Regions from separate parts of the Homo sapiens genome. Here region 1 is linked to region 2. The links come from fine-mapping of genetic effects on gene expression. A gene starts in region 2. The other region holds a variant in brackets. All regions are shown on one strand. Distances are from middle to middle. Region 1 has its middle 86 kb from the start of FMR1-AS1. Region 2 holds the start of FMR1 (fragile X messenger ribonucleoprotein 1).

What was found. PIP is the estimated chance that this variant, and not a neighbour inherited with it, causes the effect. A credible set is the group of variants that fine-mapping cannot tell apart.
Region 1: its variant is the best candidate, but not a certain one, in a credible set for the expression of FMR1 in whole blood (TOPMed, PIP 0.57).

What each region holds. Positions count from the first base shown.
Region 1 is chrX:147,820,188-147,830,504 of GRCh38, reverse strand. It overlaps the pseudogene RNU6-382P. Among named protein-coding and RNA genes, the nearest start is that of FMR1-AS1, 86 kb to the left of the region's middle. The variant A/G (reference allele first, on the strand shown) is at 6,120.
Region 2 is chrX:147,906,933-147,917,249 of GRCh38, reverse strand. It overlaps FMR1 (fragile X messenger ribonucleoprotein 1), which reads right to left and starts at 5,331. Exons shown (of 17, transcript NM_002024.6): 1 at 5,020-5,331. The coding sequence starts at 5,070. FMR1-AS1 (FMR1 antisense RNA 1) reads left to right here and starts at 5,433. Exons shown (of 2, transcript NR_024503.3): 1 at 5,433-5,608; 2 at 6,255-7,819. RefSeq lists enhancers at 4,911-5,010, 5,591-5,800 and a silencer at 5,171-5,510.

The sequences.
Region 1 (10,317 bases), 87 kb after region 2:
GTGTTCTTTTTTCACTGTGCCTCTGCCAGGTTTTGATATCAGGATGATGCTGGCCTCATAAAACGAGTTAGGGAGGAGTCCCTACAATTTTTAAAATTTGTTTTAGTATAAATGATGCCAGCTCTTCTTTGTACCTCTGGTAAAATTCAGCTGTGAATCCATCTGGTCCTGGGCTTTTTCTGGTTGATAGGCTATTTATTACTGCCTCAATTTCAGAACTCATTATTGGTCTATTCAGGGATTCAATTTCTTCCTGTTTCAGTCTTGGGAGGGTGTATGTGTCCAGGAGTTTATCCATTTATTCTAGATTTTCTAGTTTATGTGCATAGAGGTGTTTATAGTATTCTCTGATGGCTGTTCGTATTTCTGTGGGGTCAGTGGTGATATCCCCCTTATCATTTCTGATTGTGTTTATTTGCATCTTCTCTCTTTTCTTCTTTATTCGTTTAGCTAGTGGTCTGTCTATTTTATTAACCTTTTCAAAAAACCAGCTCCTGGTTTTGTTGTTATTTTGAAGGGTTTTTTGTGTCTCTATCTCCTTCAGTTCAGCTCTGATCCTAGTTAATTCTTGTCTTCTGCTAGCTTTGGGGTTTGTTTGCTCTTGCTTCTCTAGTTCTTTTAGTTGAGATGTTAGGTTGTTAACTTGAGATATTTCTAGCTTTTTGATGTGGGCATTTAGTACTATAAATTTCCCTCTTAACACTGCTTTAGCTGCATCCCAGGGATTCTGGTACATTGTCTCTTTTTTCTCATTAGTCTCAAAGAATTTCTTGATTTCTGCTTAATTTTATTATTTACCCAAGTGTCATTCAGGAGAAGGTTTTTCAATTTCCATGTAATTGTGTTATTTTGAGTCAATTTCTTAATCTTGAGTTCTAATTTGATTGCACTGTGGTCTGAGAGACTGTTAGGATTTCAGTTATTTTGCATTTGATGAGGAGTGTTTTACTTCTGATTATGTGATCAATTTTAGAGTAAGTGCCATGTGGCAATGAGAAGATGTATATTCTGTTGAATTTGGGTGGAGAGTTCTGTAGACACCTATCAGCTCCATTTGATTCAGAGCTGAGCTCAGGTTTTAAATATCTTTGTTAATTTTGTGTCTCAATGATCTAATATTGACATTGAGGTGTTAAAGTCTCCCAATATTATTGTGTGGGAGTCTAAGGCTCTTTGTAGGTCTCTAAGAACTTGCTTTATTAACCTGGGTGCTCCCATATTGGGTGCATATATAAGATAATTAGCTCTTCTTGTTGAATTGAACCTTTTACCATTATGTAATGCCCTTCTTTGTCTTTTTTGAACTTTGTTGGTTTAAAATCTGTTTTGTCAGAAATTAGGATTGCAACCCCTGCTTTTCTCTGTTTTCCATCTGCTTGATAAAATTTCCTCCATCCCTTTATTTTGAGCCTATGTGTGTCTTTGCATGTGAGATGGGTCTCTTGAAGACAGCATACCAATGGGTCATGATGAGAGGTGACAACATGCTAGCAGCCCTCGCTCGCTCTCAGTGCCTCCTCGACCTTGGCGTCTGCTCTGGCCGTGCTTGAGGAGCCCTTCAGCCCACCGCTGCCCTACGAGGGCCCCTCTCTGGGGCTGGCCGAGGCCGGAGCTGGCTCTCTCTGCTCACGGGGAAGTGTGAAGAGAGAGGTGTGGGTGGGAGCCGGGGCTGCACGCAGCGCTCACAGGCCAGCGCAGGTTCCAGGTGAGCATGGGCCTGCTGGGCTTGATCAGAGGCTGAATCCTGTGTGTGGACCACTGTTCCCTCCTCGTGGGACCGTTGGCCACGATAGCAGGTCTCCGTCTCTTTCTCACTTCCCCTCTTTTCCTCTTGATTGTCTGGGATGAGCTCCCTCTGGGCTGCTGGAGCCCTCTGGAGCCCTCTCGGCTGCTGGGCTGCTGTCTGGATGAGCTCCCTCAGGCTAGGTGCCTCAAAGTCCCGTGGTGAATGCCAGTGAGAGGTGAGGCTGGCTGAGCTTCTGGGATGGGTGGGGACTTGGAGAACTTTTCTGTCTAGCTAAAGGATTGTAAACGCACCAATCAGCACTCTATGTCTAGCTAAAGGTTTGTAAACACACCAATCAGTGCTCTGTGTCTAGCTAATTGGCTGGGGACTTGGAGAACTTTTCTGTTTAGCTAAAGATTGTAAACGCACCAATCAGCACTCTGTGTCTAGCTAAAGGTTTGTAAATGCACCAATCAGCACTCTGTCAAAATGGACCAATCAGCTCTCTGTAAAACGGACCAATCAGCTCTCTGTAAAATGGACCAATCAGCTCTCTGTAAAGTGGACCAATCAGCTCTCTGTAAAGTGGACCAATCAGCAGGATGTGAGTGGGGCCGGATAAGGGAATAAAAGTAGGCCACCCGAGCCAGCAGCGGCAACCCGCTGTGGTCCCATTCCATGCTGTGGAAGCTTTGTTCTTTTGCTCTTCACAATAAATCTTGCTGCTGTTCACTCTTTGGGTCCACGCTACCTTTATGTGCTGTAACACTCACCTCTGAAGGTCTGCAGCTTTACTCCTGAAGCCAGCGAGACCACAAACCCACCGGGAGAAATGAACAACTCTGGACGCGCTGCCTTTAAGAGCTGTAACACTCACTGCGAAGGTCTGTGGCTTCACTCCTGAAGTCAGTGAGACAACGAACCCACCAAAAGGGAGAAATTCCGGACACATCTGAACATCAGAAGGAACAAACTCCAGACACACCATCTTTAAGAACTGTAACACTCACCACGAGGGTCCACGGCTTCATTCTTTAAGTCAGCGAGACCAAGAACCCACCAATTCCAGACACAATGACTCTATCAAGCTTGCCGTCTGTGCCTTTTAATTGGGACATTTAGTCCATTTACATTTAAGGTTAGTATTTTTGTGTGTGAATTTGATCCTGTCATCATGATGCTAGCTGGTTATTTTGCAGGCTTGTTTATGTGGTTGCTTCATGGTGTCACTGGTCTGTGTAATTCAGTGTGTTTTTATAATGGCTGGTAGTGGTTTTTCCTTTCCATATTCAGTGCTTCCTTCAGGAGCTCTTGCAAGGCAGGCCTGGTGTTGAAAAATTCACTAAGCATTTGCTTGTCTGAAAAGGATCTTACTTTCTTATTCGCTTATGAAGAAAAATAAGGAATGCTTCCTGAATTTGCATGTCATCTTTGTGCAAGGGACATGCTAATGTTCTCTCTACCATTCCATTTTAGTATATATGCTGCTGAAGTGACCGCCAAAATATTTTCTTAATGGTTGCGTAATAGTCTTCAGTCATTCTTCAACTGGTAGTTGTCCATTTTTCTTTCACCTTTTTACATTAGCAAAAAGATCCACAAGGAACATATGTATATCCATAGATGTGGGGTTTTCTGTTAAACATAAAAATGGAATTGTTCAGTGTGTACTGTTTTTGAGTGCAAGTAACAGAACTCAAACCAGCAGTGGTTTAAACCAGGAATATATTAGTTGTTTAGTGAACAAGAAATCTGGTAGAAGATAGTCATAGTTTGAGTGTTCAAAGTCATAGTCCACAAGCCAAGCTCTTTTCATAATTCTATTCTTCCATTCCTGGGCATATTGCCTCTTGGTTACAAGATGTCTACTGAAGCTCCAGATGTTCACACAACAAGATACAAAGTATAATGGGAAGGAAGAGGGCAAACAAACCCTGTTTTATATAGTTCTCTGTAAGGTAGAACTGTATGGCCCCAAATAAACTTTCTCTTACATCTAGATGGCCAAAAACAGTTTCACATATACCCATCTCTATACCAGTCAATGGTCAATGGGAATGGCATGTCATGATTTGTTTGGATTGGGTGCATTCCTCCCTAGACAAGACCATGCTCCTATCAGTGAAGAAAAAAATACATAGAGAAAATAATTCTTGGAAAGGCAACCAACAGCGTCTGCCATGATATGATATGGAATTGATTAATATGCTACTTAGACATCCTCAGTAAAATATCTGTTAGGGAAACAGGAGCCTAGCAGAACCAGAGTGACACCGTTTTAAGTTCAGCTCCATCTTGAGACTAAAAAGGCACTTTCGGTTCCAGCCATGATTCATGGTTATAAAGTGTTTATAGTTGAGGAAAACCTACAAGGACACACACCTACAATAGCAGAAAGTCTAGATGTCCCAATACCCGTGACAATACATGGTTTAAAATAATTATAGTTATTCTTTGATGTACTTACCCACTAAAATATCAAGGATAGTTTTCTTTAAATCAACAGAATAATAAATTTTCTCATGCTGTCTGCTCTCCTGCACATAGTCACAGCTTAGTTTAGTCTTTGCATAGACAGGACACTTATATAAGAAAAGCTTGAAGACAGTGCATTCCTCTCTTAATTTCTGAGGATGCCCTACTCTGTAACAGTGTAGCTTTCAATATCTTATCACTGCACTCTGCAACTCACCTTGAATTCTTTCTTCTGTGAGATTCAAGAACCCTCTCTGCAGATCTGGATTGAGACCATGTCCCTACAAAGGACATGATCTCCTTCCTTTTTATGGCTCCATCAGGTTTCTTGTGTTTGCTAAGTCAGTTATCACCTGTCCTTTTGCTTTCCAACTTCTAAAATTTTGATTCTACTGTCTCCTCCTATCCTGACTCTCCCTCTCTCTCTGTATGTGTGTGTGTGTGTGTATGTATGTTTCCATCTATTACTTTATAATTTTCCTGATGTTTCATGAGGTAGTGGAAGCATATATCTTCAACCACCAAGTTTTTTAAGTCCTACACTCTTAGCCAGTATGTACCATTGTCTTGCAAGTGAGGCTGAAGAGTGAGCTGAATGCCCTTGAAAGTCTGAATGAAATTGTTGTGTTGGGAAAATTATCACAGCAACAATGTACAGGATGGATGAGAAGGGGGAGAAAACAGAAGCAGGTTATTTGTCCATTTGCCTTGCCTGTAGGATCCTTCCCCTTACTTCTCAGTTTTTTTTAAAATTATACTTTAAGTTCTGGGATACATATGCAGAACGTGCAGGTTTGTTAAATTTGTATGCACGTGCCATGGTGGTTTGCTGCACCCATCAACCCGTCATCTACATTAGGTATTTCTCCTAATGCTATCCCTCCCCTAGCCCCCCACCCCCCGACAGGCCCCGGTGTGTGATGTTCCCCTCCCTGTGTCCATGTGTTCTCATTTTTCAACTCCCACTTATGAGTGAGAACATGTGATATTTGGTTTTCTGTTCCTGTGTTAGTTTGCTGAGAATGATGGTTTCCAGCTTCATCCATGTCCCAGCAAAGGACATGAACTCATCCTTTTTTTGTGGCTGCATAGTATTCCATGGTGTATATGTGCCACATTTTCTTTATCCAGTCTATCGTTGATGGGCATTTGAGTTGGTTCCAAGTCTTTGATATTGTGAGTAGTGCTGCAGTAAACATATGTGTGCATGTGTCTTTATAGTAGAATGATTTATATTCCTTTGGGTACATACCCAGTAATGGGATTGCTCAGTCAAATGATATTTCTGGTTCTAGATCCTTGAGGAATTGTCACACTCTCTTCTAAAATAGTTGAACTAATTTGCACTCCCACCAACAGTGTAAAAGCATTCCCATTTCTCCACATCCTCTCCAGCATCTGTTGTTTCCTGATTTTTTAATGATCGTCTTTCTAACTGGCGTGAGATGGTATCTCATTGTGTTTTTATTTGCATTTCTCTAATGACCAGTGATGATGAGCTTTTTAAAATATGTTTGTCAGCTGCATAAATGTCTTTTTTTGAGAAGTGTCTGTTCATATCCTTCACCCACTTTTTGATGGGGTTGTTTGTTTTTTTTTCTTGTAAATTTGTTTAAGTTCCTTGTAGATTCTGGATATTACCCCATTGTCAGATAGATAGATTGCAAAAATTTTCTCCCATTCTGTAGATTGCCTGTTCACTCAGATGATAAGTTTCTTTTGCTGTGCAGAAGCTCTTTAGTTTAATTAGATCCCATTTGTCAATTTTAGCTTTTGTTGCCATTGCTTTTGGTGTTATAGTCATGAAGTCTTTGCCCATGCCTATGTCCTGAATGGCACTGCCTAGGTTTTCTTCTAGGGTTTTTATGATTTTAGGTCTTACATTTAAGTCTTTAATTCATCTTGAGTTAATTTTTGT[A/G]TAAGGTGTAAGGAAGGGGTCCAGTTTCAGTTTTCTGCATGTGGCTAGCCAGTTTTCCCAGCACCATTTATTAAATAGAGAATCCTTCCCCCATTGCTTGTTTTTGTCAGGTTTGTCAGAGATCGGATGGTTGCAGATGTGTGGCATTATTTCTGAGGCCTGTGTTCTGTTCTGTTGGTCTGTATCTCTGTTTTGGTAACAGTACCATGCTGTTTTGCTTACTGTAGCCTTGTAGTATAGTTTGAAGTCAGGTAGCATGATGTCTCCAGCTTTGTTCTTTTTGCTTAGGATTGTCTTGGCTACACGTGCTCTTTCTTGGTTCCGTATGAAATTTAAAGTAGTTTTTCTAATTCTGTGAAGAAAGTCAATGGTAGCTTGATGAGGATAGCATTGAATCTATAAATTACTTTGGGCAGTATGGCCATTTTCACCATATTGATTCTTCCTATCCATGAGCATGGAATGTTTTTTCATTTGTTTGTGTTCTCTCTTATTTCCTTGAGCAGTGGTTTGTGGTTCTCCTTGAAGAGGTCCTTCATCTCCCTTGTAAGCTGGATTCCTAGGTATTTTATTCTCTTTGTAGCAATTGTGAATGGGAGGTCACTCATGATTTGGCTGTCTGTTTGTGTATTATTGGTGTAGAGGAATGCTTGTGATTTTTGCACATTGATTTTGTATCTTGAGACTTTGGTGAAGTTGCTTATCAGCTTAAGGAGATTTTGGGCTGAGACGATGGGGTTTTCTAAATATACAATCATGTCATCTGCAAACAGAGACAATTTGACTTCCTCAATTCTTATTTGAATATCTTTTATTTCTTTCTCTTGTCTGATTTCCCCAGCCAGAACTTCCAATACTATGTTGAATAGGAGTAATGAGAGAGGGCATCCTTGTCTTGTGCCAGTTTTCAAAAAGAGTGCTTCAAACTTTTGCCCATTGAGTATGATATTGGCTGTGGGTTTGTTATAAACAGCTCTTATTATTTTGAGATACGTTCCATCAATACCTAGTTTATTGAGAGTTTTTAGCATGAAGCAGTGTTGAATTTTATCAAAGTCCTTTTCTGCATCTATTGAGATAATCATGTGATTTTTATCATTGGTTCTGTTTATGTGATGGATTACATTTATTGATTTGCATATGTTGAACCAGTCCTGCATCCCAGGGATGAAGCCAACTTGATCGTGGTGGATAAGTGTTTTGATTTGCTGCTGATTCAGTTTGCCAGTATTTTACTGAAGCTTTCCACATCGATGTTCATCAGGGATATTGGCTGAAATTTTATTTTTTGTTGTGTGTCTGTCAGGTTTTGGTATCAGGATGATGCTGGCCTCATACAATGAGTTAGGGAGGAGTCCCTCTTTTTCTATTGATTGGAATAGTTTCAGAAGGAATGGTACCAGCTCCTCTTTGTACCTCTGGTAGAATTCGGTTGTGAATCCGTCTTGTCCTGGAATTTTTTCGGTTGGTAGGCTATTAATTACTGCCTCAATTTCAGAACTTGTTATTGGTCTATTCAGGGATTCGACTTCTTCCTGATTTAGTCTTGGGAGGGTGTATGTGTCCAGGAATTTATCCATTTCTTCTAGATTTTCTAGTTTATTTGCGTAGAGGTGTTTATAGTATTCTCTGACAGTAGTTTGTATTTCTGTGGGATCGGTGGTGATATCCCCTTTATCATTTTTTATTGTGTCTATTTTATTCTTCTCTCTTTTCTTCTTTATTAGTCTGGCTAGTGGTCTATGTATTTTGCTAATCTTTTCAAAAAAACCTGCTCCTGGATTCACTGATTTTTTGAAGGGTTTTTTTGTGTCTCTATCTCTTTCAGTTCTTCTCTGATCTTAGTGATTTCTTGTCTTCTACTAGCTTTTGAATGTGTTTGCTCTTGCTTCTCTAGTTCTTTTAATTGTGATGTTAGAGTGTGGATTTTAGATCTTTCCCACTTTCTCCTGTGGGCATTTAGTGCTATACATTTCCCTCTAAACACTGCTTTAGCTGTGTCCCAGAGATTCTGGTATGTTGTGTCTTTGTTCTCATTGGTTTCAAAGAACTTACTTATTTCTGCCTTCATTTTGTTATTTACCCAGTAGTCATTCAGGAGCATGTTGTTCAGTTTCCATGTAGTTGTGCGGTTTTGAGTGAGTTTCTTAATCCTGACTTCTAATTTGATTGCACTGTGGTGCGAGAGACTGTTTGTTATGATTTCTGTTCTTTTGCATTTGCTGAAGACTGTATTACTTCCAATTACGTGGTCAACTTTAGAATAAGTGCTATGTGGTGCTGAGAAGAATGTATATTCTATTGATTTGGGGCGGTGAGTTCTGTAGTTGTCTATTAGGTCCTCTTGGTCCAGAGCTGAGTTCAAGTCCTGAATATCCTTGTTAATTTTCTGTCTCATTGATCTGTCTAACACTGACACTGGGGTGTTAAAGTCTCCCACCATTGTTGTGTGGGACTCTAACTCTCTTTGTAGGTCTCTAAGAACTTGCTTTATGAATCTGTGTGCTCCTGTATTAGGTGCATATATATTTAGGATAGTTAGCTCTTCTTGTTGCATCAATCCCTTTACCATTATGTAATGCCCTTCTTTGTCTTTTTTTATCTTTGTTTTGGTTTAACGTGTGTTTCATCTGAGACTAGGATTGCAACCTGTTTTTTTTTTTTCCTTTCCATTTGCTTGGTAAGTCTTCCTCCATTCCTTTATTTTGAGCCTATGTGTGTCTTTGCATGTGAGATGGGTCTCTTGAATACAGCACACCAATGGGTCTTGACACTTTATACAATTTGCCACTCTGTGTCTTTTAATTGGGGCATTTAGCCTGTTTACATTTTAGGTTAGTTAGTATGGTTATGTGTGAAACTGATCCTGTCATTATGATGCTAGCTGGTTATTTTGCATGTTAGTTGATGCAGTTTTTTCATAGTGTTAATGGTCTTTACAATTTGGTATGTTTTTGCAGTGGCTGGTACGGGTTTTTCCTTTCCATATTTAGTGCTTCCTTCAGGACCTCTTGTACAGCAGGCCTGGTGGTGACAAAATCTCTCAGCATTTGCTTGTCTGTAAAGGATTCTATTTCTCCTTTGCTTATGACGCTTAATTTGGCTGGATATGAAATTCTAGGTGAAAATTCTTTTCTTTAAGAATTTTGAATATTACCCTCCCACTCTCTTATGGCTTGTAGGGTTTCTGCAGAGGGATCTGCTGTTAGTCTCATGGGCTTCTCTTTGTCAGAAACCCGACCCTTCTCTCTGGCTGCCCTTAACATTTTGTCCTTCATTTCAACCTTGGTGAATCTGACAATTATGTGTCTTGGAGTTGTTTGCTCTTCTCGAAGAGTATCTCTGTGGTGTTCTCTGTATTTCCTGAATTTGAATGTTGGCCTGTCTTGCTAGGTTAGGGAAGTTCTTCTGGATAATATCCTGAAGAGTGTTTTCCAACCTGCTTCCATTCTCCCTGTCACTTTCACGTACACCAATCAAGTGTAGATTTGGTCTTTTCACAAAGTGCCATATTTCTTGGAGGCTTTGTTCTTTCCTTTTCATTCTTTTTTCTCTCATCTTGTCTTCATGCTTTATTTCATTATGTTGATCTTCAATCTCTGATATCCTTTCTTCCACTCGATTGAGTTGGTTATTGATACTTGTGTATGCATCACGAAGTTCTTCTGATCCATCAGGTCCATCAGGTCATTATGTTCTTCTCTAAACTGATTGTTCTAGTTAGCAATTCCTCTAACCTTTTTTCAATGTTCTTAGCTTCCTTGCATTGGGTTAGAACATGCTCCTTTAGCTCAGAGGAGTTTGTTATTACCCACCTTCTGAAGCCTACTTCTGTCAATTCGTCAAACTCATTCTTCATTTAGTTTTGTTCCCTCACTGGCGAGGAGTTGTGATCCTTTGGAGGACCGTTTGGAGGAGAAGAGGCATTCTGGTTTTTGGAATTTTCAGCCTTTTTGCACTGCTTTTTCCTCATTTTCATGGATTTATCTACCTTTCATCTTTGTTGTTGGTGACCTTCGGGTGGGGTTTTTGTGTGGACATCCCTTTTGTTGATGCTGATGCTATTCCTTTCTGTTTGCTGGTTTTCCATCTAACAGTCAGGCCTCTCTGCTGCAGGTCTGCTGGAGTTTGCTGGAGGTCTACTCCAGGCCCTGTTTTCCTGGGTGTCACCTGCGGAGGCTGCAGAACAGCAAAGATT
Region 2 (10,317 bases):
ATTCCTTCCCTTAGTAAAGTATCTTACCAACAGGAACCACTGCTCACAGGAGAGGCTATTATGTGTTAAAGTTTCAATGTACACCCGACCACCAATGAACATAACTACAACATCATCAGTAAGCTTGTATCACTTACTGAAGACAGAACATGTAGTGCTATGATAATTCTCGTTAGGAAAAACTTACAGCATTGTAAAATATCCCTCCTAAAGAAAACCTGCTGGAAGCTGGACCCGGTGTCTCATGCCTGTAATTCCAGCACTTTGGAGGGCTGAGGCAGGCAGATAACTTGAGATCAGCCTGGCCAACATGGCGAAACCTCATCTCTACTAAAAATGCAAAAAATAGCCAGGAATGGTGGCACATGCCTGTAATCTCAGCTACCCGGAAGGCTGAAGCATGAGACTGGCTTGAACCCGAGAGGTGGAGGTTGCAGTGAGCTGAGATCCCACCACTGCACTCCAACCTGGGCGACAGTGAGACCTGTTGAAAGAAACAAAGAAACAAAGAAACAAACTAAAGAAACAAAGAAACAAACCAAAGAAACAAAGAAACAAACCAAAGAAACAAAGAAACAAACTAAAGGAGCAAAGGAGAGAAATGAAGGAAAGAAAGGAAAAAAGAAAAGGAAAGAAAAAAGGAAGAAAGGAAAGAAAGGAAAAGAAAGGAAGAAAGGAAGAAAGAAAACCAAAAAAGAAAACCAAGAAAGAAAACCTGCAGGAGACAGGATAGGGACATAGGAAATGTGATAACAGTATGATTCAAACCCAAGGCTTCATATATAAAGCAAGTTATCATTTTGTCCCCACTCCCCCCGCCCCGTTGTATGGGGACACTAACAACATAAAAGAATAAAGAGAGACAATAAACCTCATCAACAGTCCTTCCAACCATACCACATGTCCAGGACTTCATATAGGCTACAAATTATGTGAAAAACACATTTAGCTTCACTCTGACCAAAAGACAACAGAGACATGTGCAAAGAAAACATTATTAAATTAGTTACTAATTTTTCTTGTGTGTATGTATTCTAACTTTTGAATACTTCAGTTTTATGAGCTCCCAATATAACAAAGACAAATTTCCTAGCAGGGTCAAAGATTTCTAACTTTATCTTTCCTTAACAGGCATCCACATGAAGAAGTACAGCGCCAAGGTTCAAGAATTAGTAACAAAAAAAGCTGGCACATAAACTGAATTATTTCATGATGGCTTTGTATTAACAATAAAAAATGGTAATATAACACTGTAACTATAGTTATAGGATGCTAAGGCAGTGTTATAGCACAAAATACAATCAAAGACCACCATGAAATTGAAAACTAAGCAGGAAATCAAACCAATTTCTTCAAGCTAAATTTCATCATTTCAGGAATTCAGAATCCTGACCCTTAATGGCCCTGACACTTGGTAGTAAGTCACTTACCTAACCTCTCTGTGCATCATTTAAAGAATGGGAATAACAACAATACATCAAATAAAGTATCAGAGAGAACAGTGCCTGGCACCTAGAAAGTACTCATCCCCTGTTAACTATTATTATAATCACGATCCCAATCTTCTCAGGAAGCACATTCCTATAGTGGGCAGAAATCAGAAACTCCAGTAATATACCACTGAATGTTGCATCTAATTAATAATTTGGAGGTTATGAGAATATTTAAGTATGGGGTTAGAAAATGCACAGTTCAAAAGGGGAAAAATGATGCAGCCACAAAGATCCTAAAAACTAAAAAGGGCAATCAGACTGTAGGAAGGAAAAAAAATGTGGTTGACCCCAATAATTCACTTCCTCGAAGTACAGAATAACACCTTTATGCAAAGTTAGCTCAGGAGACTTCAGAGAAACCACGAGTGCAAGTTTATTTACACTTTACCCAAGTTGATTTATAAACTTATAAATTTATAAACCTTATGCAAGTTTATTTGTAGTAAAACTGATTTTACTACATTTCAGCTATGTATCTGAAATGACATGTTAGACCACTAATATCTTCATTAAAAATATCCTTTTGATTGTACACTTTATCATATTTAGCTGCTAGCTGCCATAATACTACTAACCAAATGAAAGTCTGTCCTCAAACACTGAACTTAAAAAAGTATAATCTAACAACAAAATTACAATCTAGTATAATTACACCATATTACAACAAGGAATCAGAAATCAGAGGTTGTATTTTCAGAAAACAAAAAGGTTTGTATCTTATGTCTCCAACATGTGATTTTTCCATCTTTAGTAATTTTCATACTAGTACACAAAACCTACAAATCTTAGGATTCATTAGGGCATTCATATTGGAGTGATACGCATTCTACATTTAAAATGGAGTTAATTCATTACCATTCTCAACACATCAAAACTTCTAGTCCAAAGAAAACAAATTATGTGGGGCAGATGCACCTAGAATAAAGACTTTATTTCATCATTATTCATTTAGAAAATACTTTGTAAAGATTTTATGAGGTGTAAGTCAAAGTGCCTTCATATCTTAACACCTGCAGGGCACTATAAAGTGGTACACGTGACCAATTTTTTCTAAGTCAAACAAATACCTAAGCATAAAAGTAGTGGCTCTGGTGATCGCTAAATCTAACTTTTAAGTTTTTAAGAATAAACACCAGAAGATAGAGAGCTGTCCTTGCAAATATGGTGGTTATGTTAGGCAAATCAAAGTCTGAATTCCATTATACTCAAGTTGTTTGATTTGTTTAGTTTTAAAAGCTTTTCTATCAATTTGATGAACAAGGTTCCTATTTCTTTTTCCATAAATGTAACACTTCTCCACAGCAGTTCATTTTTCATTGGTTTTTATTTCACATCTTTCCTGTCCATCCCACTGGACAAGCAACTCAGTTTACTTTTGCTTTACTTTTAAAACTCACAGCAGTATTATAAGTCATATAAAAATTTCAAGCTTTTTTGTTACAGAAACTGTTCTTCCATCAGTGCAGACCATTTGAGATTTTCTTAGAAATCAAACTTAATTAAATAAACATAACAGCAATTTGTCTGACACACACTTGTTCAAGTATTAACATTTCTCCTCAGGGAACTAAGGGGCAACCAACCTATTCTTCATTCACCTTCAAGTTAAACAACTTCGTTACAAAACAAAACAAAAAAGGAGGGAATTAATAGCAAAAATAGAAGGCATTTCTTATATTCCAGTCAGTGTGCAAGCAAAATCACTGGAGCAAATCATAAGTTGCTGGAAGAGAACAATAAGTACTTCAAGGCCATAATGTGCTACTTGCCCTCTGTGATAAGCAAACTTTAGTGGCATCCAATCTAAGTTTATATCACAGGTCAATCAAAATCTTGCCTAACCATTAGCCGTTACTCACACATATATATGTATATGTATTATAGTTATTAGTGCCAGAAATCTAGTGACCAAAACCACTAATCTAGGACCGTGAACGATTCTACGCAAACTCACCAGAAGAAATTATGGATCAATAAAATCAATGAAATTAAAATTTTGACTGCAGAGTCAACTGAAACAATTTCATATTCATGAGACTGTTAAGAACATAAACGCGGGGTTACCTTTTGCCTCCTTTTACAGCAAAAGGCTTTATCTTTGTGCTCAAAGTATGGAACAGTTTACATACTTTACTCATTTATGAAATATACTGATCTCCAAATGTCTTCATAAAATTGGTAAACACAGAATAAAGTCAATTGTTTATTTTCCTATAGCCAAACGTGTCCTGTCTGAAACATTCAAGCCATTCTACAATACATTTAAGAATTGTGTTGGACACTGCTAATAGCTATTTTCCAGCCTTCCTTCCACACGCACCTTCTATTGCCAAAATACTGTAGTAAGGTGGGATATTATTGAAAGAGGTTATAGACATTCAAAAGGAAATGAGAATTTATAGATGAATTTATACAGCACCTACATACCAACAAACGCACTACTGCTACATCAAATTTGTAAATCTTCCTTTTAAAACTGAAAGGTGTTAGTTGATCTGCAATGGTGTAACTTTAAAAAGCACAGTAAACCCATGAATGCCTATATAAAGCCTCAACAATTCAGTCCACTGCAACACCACAAATTCAAAGGAAATGTGGTCAAGTTCTTAGGGGCACAAAAATATTTTCGCTCAGTTAAAAAAAAAATGCCCTAGTAATAATATACTCTCAGTTAATTACCTGAAGTTTCATGGCATATATTTAGGTCTTTGGAAACTTAAACACACACACACAATTTTTAAGTAGCAGCGCTGCTAATGGTTTTAGACGCTGAAGCATGTGCATTCCTGAATTTACCCCGTTTAACAAAAAGGGGGACGCGAATATTCACGATGATCAACTTCTTCAATGCACTGCTGGGCCATGTTAGGGTCTTCCTGAAACTTTTGGATCTAAAATCTCCTCCGAAATCCACAAAGAGAAGCCACTAAAAATCAGTTGCCATTGTGATTTGGTGCCGACTACCGCTTCTTACTACTCTTTCTTCACAGCCCTCGCCCAGAACAGTGGAGCTCTCCGAAGTCCCAATGCTAGACCGGAAAAGAGAAGCCAAAGGAGACCTGAAGCCCTCTTGGCGCTGCAGGAGGCGGCCCGGCTGAAGCGCCCCCCGCTCCTCCACAACTACCCACACGACAGGCCCGGATCCCGCTGGGAGATGATGTTTAGGAAAGGGGGAATAAGCCATCGCCGTCACTTAGCGCCGATTTCGGCCCTTCCCGCCCGGCTCTAGTACCTGCCGCCGGCCCTCGCCCATCCCCAGCTCACCCCGGCGGGGCTCGGCGCCGAAAGAGAACCCTCTCCTCGCTGGTCTCTCATTTCGATAGGCGCTAGGGCCTCTCGGAGTCGGAGAGGGGCTTCCAACAGGCCCCAAGTCCAGTCCTTCCCTCCCAACAACATCCCGCCGAGCGTGCCCTGGCACCCAGGCGCGGTGCTCGGGAAGAGGGCCCCGGGCCTGCCTCCCGCCGACACCAAGAAGAAAAGGGAGGGAAGGAAGGGCGAAGATGGGGCCTGCCCTAGAGCCAAGTACCTTGTAGAAAGCGCCATTGGAGCCCCGCACTTCCACCACCAGCTCCTCCATCTTCTCTTCAGCCCTGCTAGCGCCGGGAGCCCGCCCCCGAGAGGTGGGCTGCGGGCGCTCGAGGCCCAGCCGCCGCCGCCGCCGCCGCCGCCGCCGCCTCCGCCGCCGCCGCCGCCGCCGCCGCCGCCGCGCTGCCGCACGCCCCCTGGCAGCGGCGCCTCCGTCACCGCCGCCGCCCGCGCTCGCCGTCGGCCCGCCGCCCGCTCAGAGGCGGCCCTCCACCGGAAGTGAAACCGAAACGGAGCTGAGCGCCTGACTGAGGCCGAACCCCCGGCCCGCTGCGGGTGTAAACACTGAAACCACGTCACGTGATCAACGCTGTTCCCTCCCCCCGCGGGCTCAGCCCCTCGGCCCCGCCCTCTCTCTTCAAGTGGCCTGGGAGCGCGCGCATGCGCGCTGCTGGGAACCGGCCGGGGTGCCGGGTCGAAAGACAGACGCGCGGGCCGGGCGTGCGCGGGCTTGGTGGAGGGCGGGAAGGCTGAAGGGCGGTGACAGGTCGCACTGCCTCGCGAGGGCCAGAACGCCCATTTCTGCAGAGGTGCACTCAGTGGCGTGGGAAATCAAATGCATCCGGTTATCCCAGTTCGGCCTCTCTGGGATTCCGCGGGAGGGGGTGTCTGGTCTGGTTTGGTTTGGTTTGGTTTGGTTTGGTTTGGTCCGGTTCAAAGTAGCGCAGTCTGACTGAGCGGGAGGTGGAGTGGAAGGCGAGAATAGGGGTGAAGGATTAGACAGAAGAAGACTTTGAACTAGGAACAGTGGCAACCAGGGTGACCCAGGCTTTTGTGACCCGTAGAGGCAGAAGGTGAGGCGTCTACGCCCTCTCTCACCAGATTTTGGGCGGCCCTGTGGAGACACCCTGTGCCCTTTAAGGGACATGGATTGAGTCGGGATCTCAAAATGTGAGCCTTTCCTCAGACCCAGCTTTGACCCACGTACTCGCCTTTCCTCAACTCATTTTCATACTTTCACTTGACTATATATTTTTTAAAAATTGTGTTAAGCACTTGAGGTTCATTTCTGCCCCTACTGTATGTGCACCCTGTGCCAGAGGGTGGGGTGAACACGTGTGTAGCAGTCATGCGTCCTGTCCACAGGGGCCGATGCACCTCCTTGCAACCCTTTACATTCCACTGTGAAACAAACCTCAACTTTTTCTTATTCCTGTTTTTACACCGTGCTTATAGCTGCCTTAATCCATGTTCCCTTCGGGATGCTGGTATCCAACTGAGAAGTTGACGGAGCATCTATCGTGTGCCAGACACTGTGCTAAGTGCTAACGAGAAATCGGTGAGCAAAACAGAAAAGAAAAAAAAAGAAGAAACGACTGCCAGCATTGAACTTAGTACCTAGCAAAGTAGGTGGACATAAATCAAATTGTCAGACAAGTAAATGAGTAGTTGCAGCTGTGATAAGGGGTATGAAGAATAGGCGCTTCCATGATGGCGGAACATGACCTAGTCTGGGGTGGAGAAGGGGAGATGATTCCAGCTGGAATATGGCAGGTGAGAGTTAACTAATAGCACTGAGTTGGCAGAGGCAGGATGACCTGCCCCAGGCAGGTGCCCCAGAATGAGAGGATGTTGCTGCTGGTGGAACTCCAGCTTTAAAGCGGTGGATCTAGGGCCACATTCCTCAAGGCCATAGCAAACAGGAAAGACCTTTTGGACTAGGGTCTTTGGAGTAGTCACATGAGGCCAAGAACCCAATAGGGCTGAAAGAGAATCTCATCATAGGCTGAATGGGAGCAGAGCATTAGCTGCAACTCCAATGTATTATAGTAAAAGGGGACACATTGATTAGAATGATTATACCCCTCCAAGTGTAAGCTGTTGTTCAATTTACCCAGGGCTTAAAAATATGTCAACTCTTCACAACCATTTTTACTACAAGCCACACTCAACCTGTGTTGTTCCCTGAACCTGTGATGCACTTTCATCCGTTCATGTCTCTACACATCCTTCCTGGGCCCCATAGAGGCCCTGCACCTTAAGGTTTTCAGCTGGATTCCTATTAGCTAGTTATTTTATCTCAGGTACAGAGAGTTAACTTTGCTCCTCAATTTTCAGCACATTGTCATATCAGTCCCTACAGGGTCCTTGTTTACATTATTTTATAGTGTTTATATTATTTTTTCCTCATCTTTCTCGATCCCCACTCTCATTCTTCTAGACACAAGCTGCAATATGTTCGATAGAGATCCTTGATAATTTAACACAGATAATGTTTTGTTTATGCCTCTTGCATTTACAGAGATGGTATTGGACTGTAAATCTCTATTTCCCACTGTTTTACTCAACAGTCTGTTTTTGAGCTATACCCACATTGCTGTGTGTACACCTAGTTTGCTACCGAGTATGCCAGAAATTTTATTCATACATATCCCTACTGATCGGGCATCTAGGTTACTGCCAACTCCCTGAAGTCATACTGTGGTGAAAACCCTTGTGAATGTCTTTACAAACCTTTGCCAGAACTTATTTTGTGCTCTTGTAGAACTTTGTGCATACCCTCTGCTTCCTCATTACACTGCTTGGCATATAGCAGAGACTCAACAAATGTTGAATACCTCTACTATGATGGTTAGTGTACTAGAATAATTTATTTATATTTCTGTTTTCCTTATTGGATTATTAGTACCTTCCAGACAGGGCAAATGTCTTTTCTATCTTTGTGTCCCTGGCACATTAAAAGTGGTTGATTTCAAGGTATGTTCAATGAATGAATAAATACTTATCTTCACTGCCAGTACATACTGCAACTTAGTCTTCCCCACTTGACTCTGAGTCTCAGCCTTACTCTGATCTCTAGCTTTTGATATTTCCCCTTTCAAGATAGCTTACCTGAATTCAGACACTGAGCTCAGGCCTGATCATGAGCCTGCTCTTCCAAAGTCCTCTCTCTCTCTCTCTCTTTCTCTCCTGTCTCTCGTTACAGGCAGCTCCTGCCTTCCAGTTCGTTGCTCAAGCCTAAAACTGAGACATTTTGACCCTCTTTCACACATCAGATCCATCAGCAAATCATTGTAGAATCCAGACTCTGTTTCTGATCATTTGCTCAGCTAAAACCATAGTCCAAGCTTCCATTCTCTTACCTGCATTATGGCAGCAACTTCTTCGCTGGTATCCCTGCAGTCACTGTCCACTGTTGTACCCTCTCTGACAGTTCTCAGCACAGAAGACAGAATGACCCTGTTGAGGTGTCAATCAAGTCACTCTGCCACTCACAATCCCCCAGTGACTCCCTACATCTCTCAGAGTAAAAGCCAGAGTCATTATTTATTCTGGCTTCAGTGCCCTATATACTCTGACTTCTGTTATCTCCGCTATCTCACCTTCTACTTTCCCCCTTCACTTCATTCCAGTGCATGAAATCTATCTAGTTCACCTAGATTTTCTCCTATGTTATCTTTCAGAAGTTTTACAGTTTTGTGTTTTGCATTTAGGTCTATGATCCATTTTGAGTAAATTTTTTTCAAAAGATATAAGGTCTGTATCTAGATTATTTTTTGCATATGAATGTCCAGTTATTCCAGCACTGTTTATTGAAAAGGCCATTGTTTCTCATTCCAGCCATAATGTTTTCTTTGTTGTTTCTTGAAAATAGCAGACAGGTTCTGTCTCTCTCCCCTCACTAGAGTGTAAGCTCAGTGAGAACAAAGATTTCCATTTGTTTTATTCACTGCTTGTCCCCAGTGCCTACCACAGTGTCTGGAACATAGTGAATGTTTACTAAATATTACATGAATGAACGAATATGTGTTGAGGACCCGGCCGAGGTTGAGTCAGCTCTCATGCCTATATTTATCTGATATTGGAATGATGCTTCAGTGTTTCTAGCCCTGCCTTGGCCCTTGGTTTCCATTAAATTGCTGCCTGTTGTCTTTGCATTGATTTATTCTGTGCTATTTCCTGCTCCTTCGCAATTTGAGCCCTCTGAGTCTTTTCCATGGCTCAAACCCAGCTGAAATGCCTTCTGCCCTTTCCGACTCTCAAATCTTATGTACCCTTCAGGACCCAGCTAAAGTCACACTTCTTTCTTGACACTTTCTCTGACAATTTCCTTTAACCATGACCTCTCATTCAAATGAGATATTAGAAAAAGAATAATTAATTGGCTTTATTTTTTAGAACAGTTTTACATTTATGGAAAAATTAAGCAGATAGTGGAGAGAGTTTCTATGTACTTCCTAATCTCCCTCCTCCCCTACAGTTCCTCCTGTTATTAACATCTTGCATTCGCATTGTACATTTATTACAACTGATGCATTATTACTAACTAAAGTCTATAGTTTACATTAAGATTCACTCTTTGTGTTGCATAGCTCTGTGGGTTTTGAAAAAAGCATAACATATCCACCATTACAGTGTCAGCAGAACAATTACACTGCATTAAAAAATTCCTTGTGTTCCACCTATTCATCTGGTCTACCTGCAACCAACCCTTGGCAATCACTGATGTTTTTACTTTCTGCAGAATTTTGCCTTTTCCGTAATGTCATAGAGTTGGAATCATATAGTATGTAGTCTTTTCATACTGCTTTTTTTTTTTTACTTAGCAATATACATTTAACATTCCTCTGTGTCTTTTCATGGCTTGATAGTTTATTTTCTTTTATTGTGCACAGTATTCCACTGTATGTATATACCATGGTTTGTTTATCCATTTATTTATTGAAAGACATCTTGGTTGCTTTCAGTCTTTTAAAATTATGAATAAGGCTCCTGTAAACTTTCTTGTACAGATTTTTGTATGGACATAAGTTTTCAACTCATTTAGGTAAATACCAAGGAGCATGATTGCTGGATCATATGGTAAGACTATGTTTTGCTTTATCAAAAATTACCAGATGATCTTCCAAAGTGGCTGTAACAGTTTGCATTTTCACCAGCAATGAGTGAGACTTCCTGTTACTCCACATCCTTGCCAACATTTGGTGTTGCCAGTATTTTGAATTTTGGGTATTTTAATAGGTGCATAGTAGAATCTTATTGTTTTAGTTTGCAATTTCCTAATGACATATGGCATTGGGCATCTTATGCTTGTTTGTCACGTATGTATCTTCTTTGATAAGGTGTCTGCTCAGATCTGTTACCCATTGGGTTTTTTTTATTGATGATTTTTCAGTGTTCTTTATATATTTTAGATATCAGCCCTTTATCAGATTATGTATTTTGCAGATATTTTCTCCCAGACAGTGGCTTGTCTTTTCATTCATTTAACAATGTCTTTCATTGAGCAGACATTTGT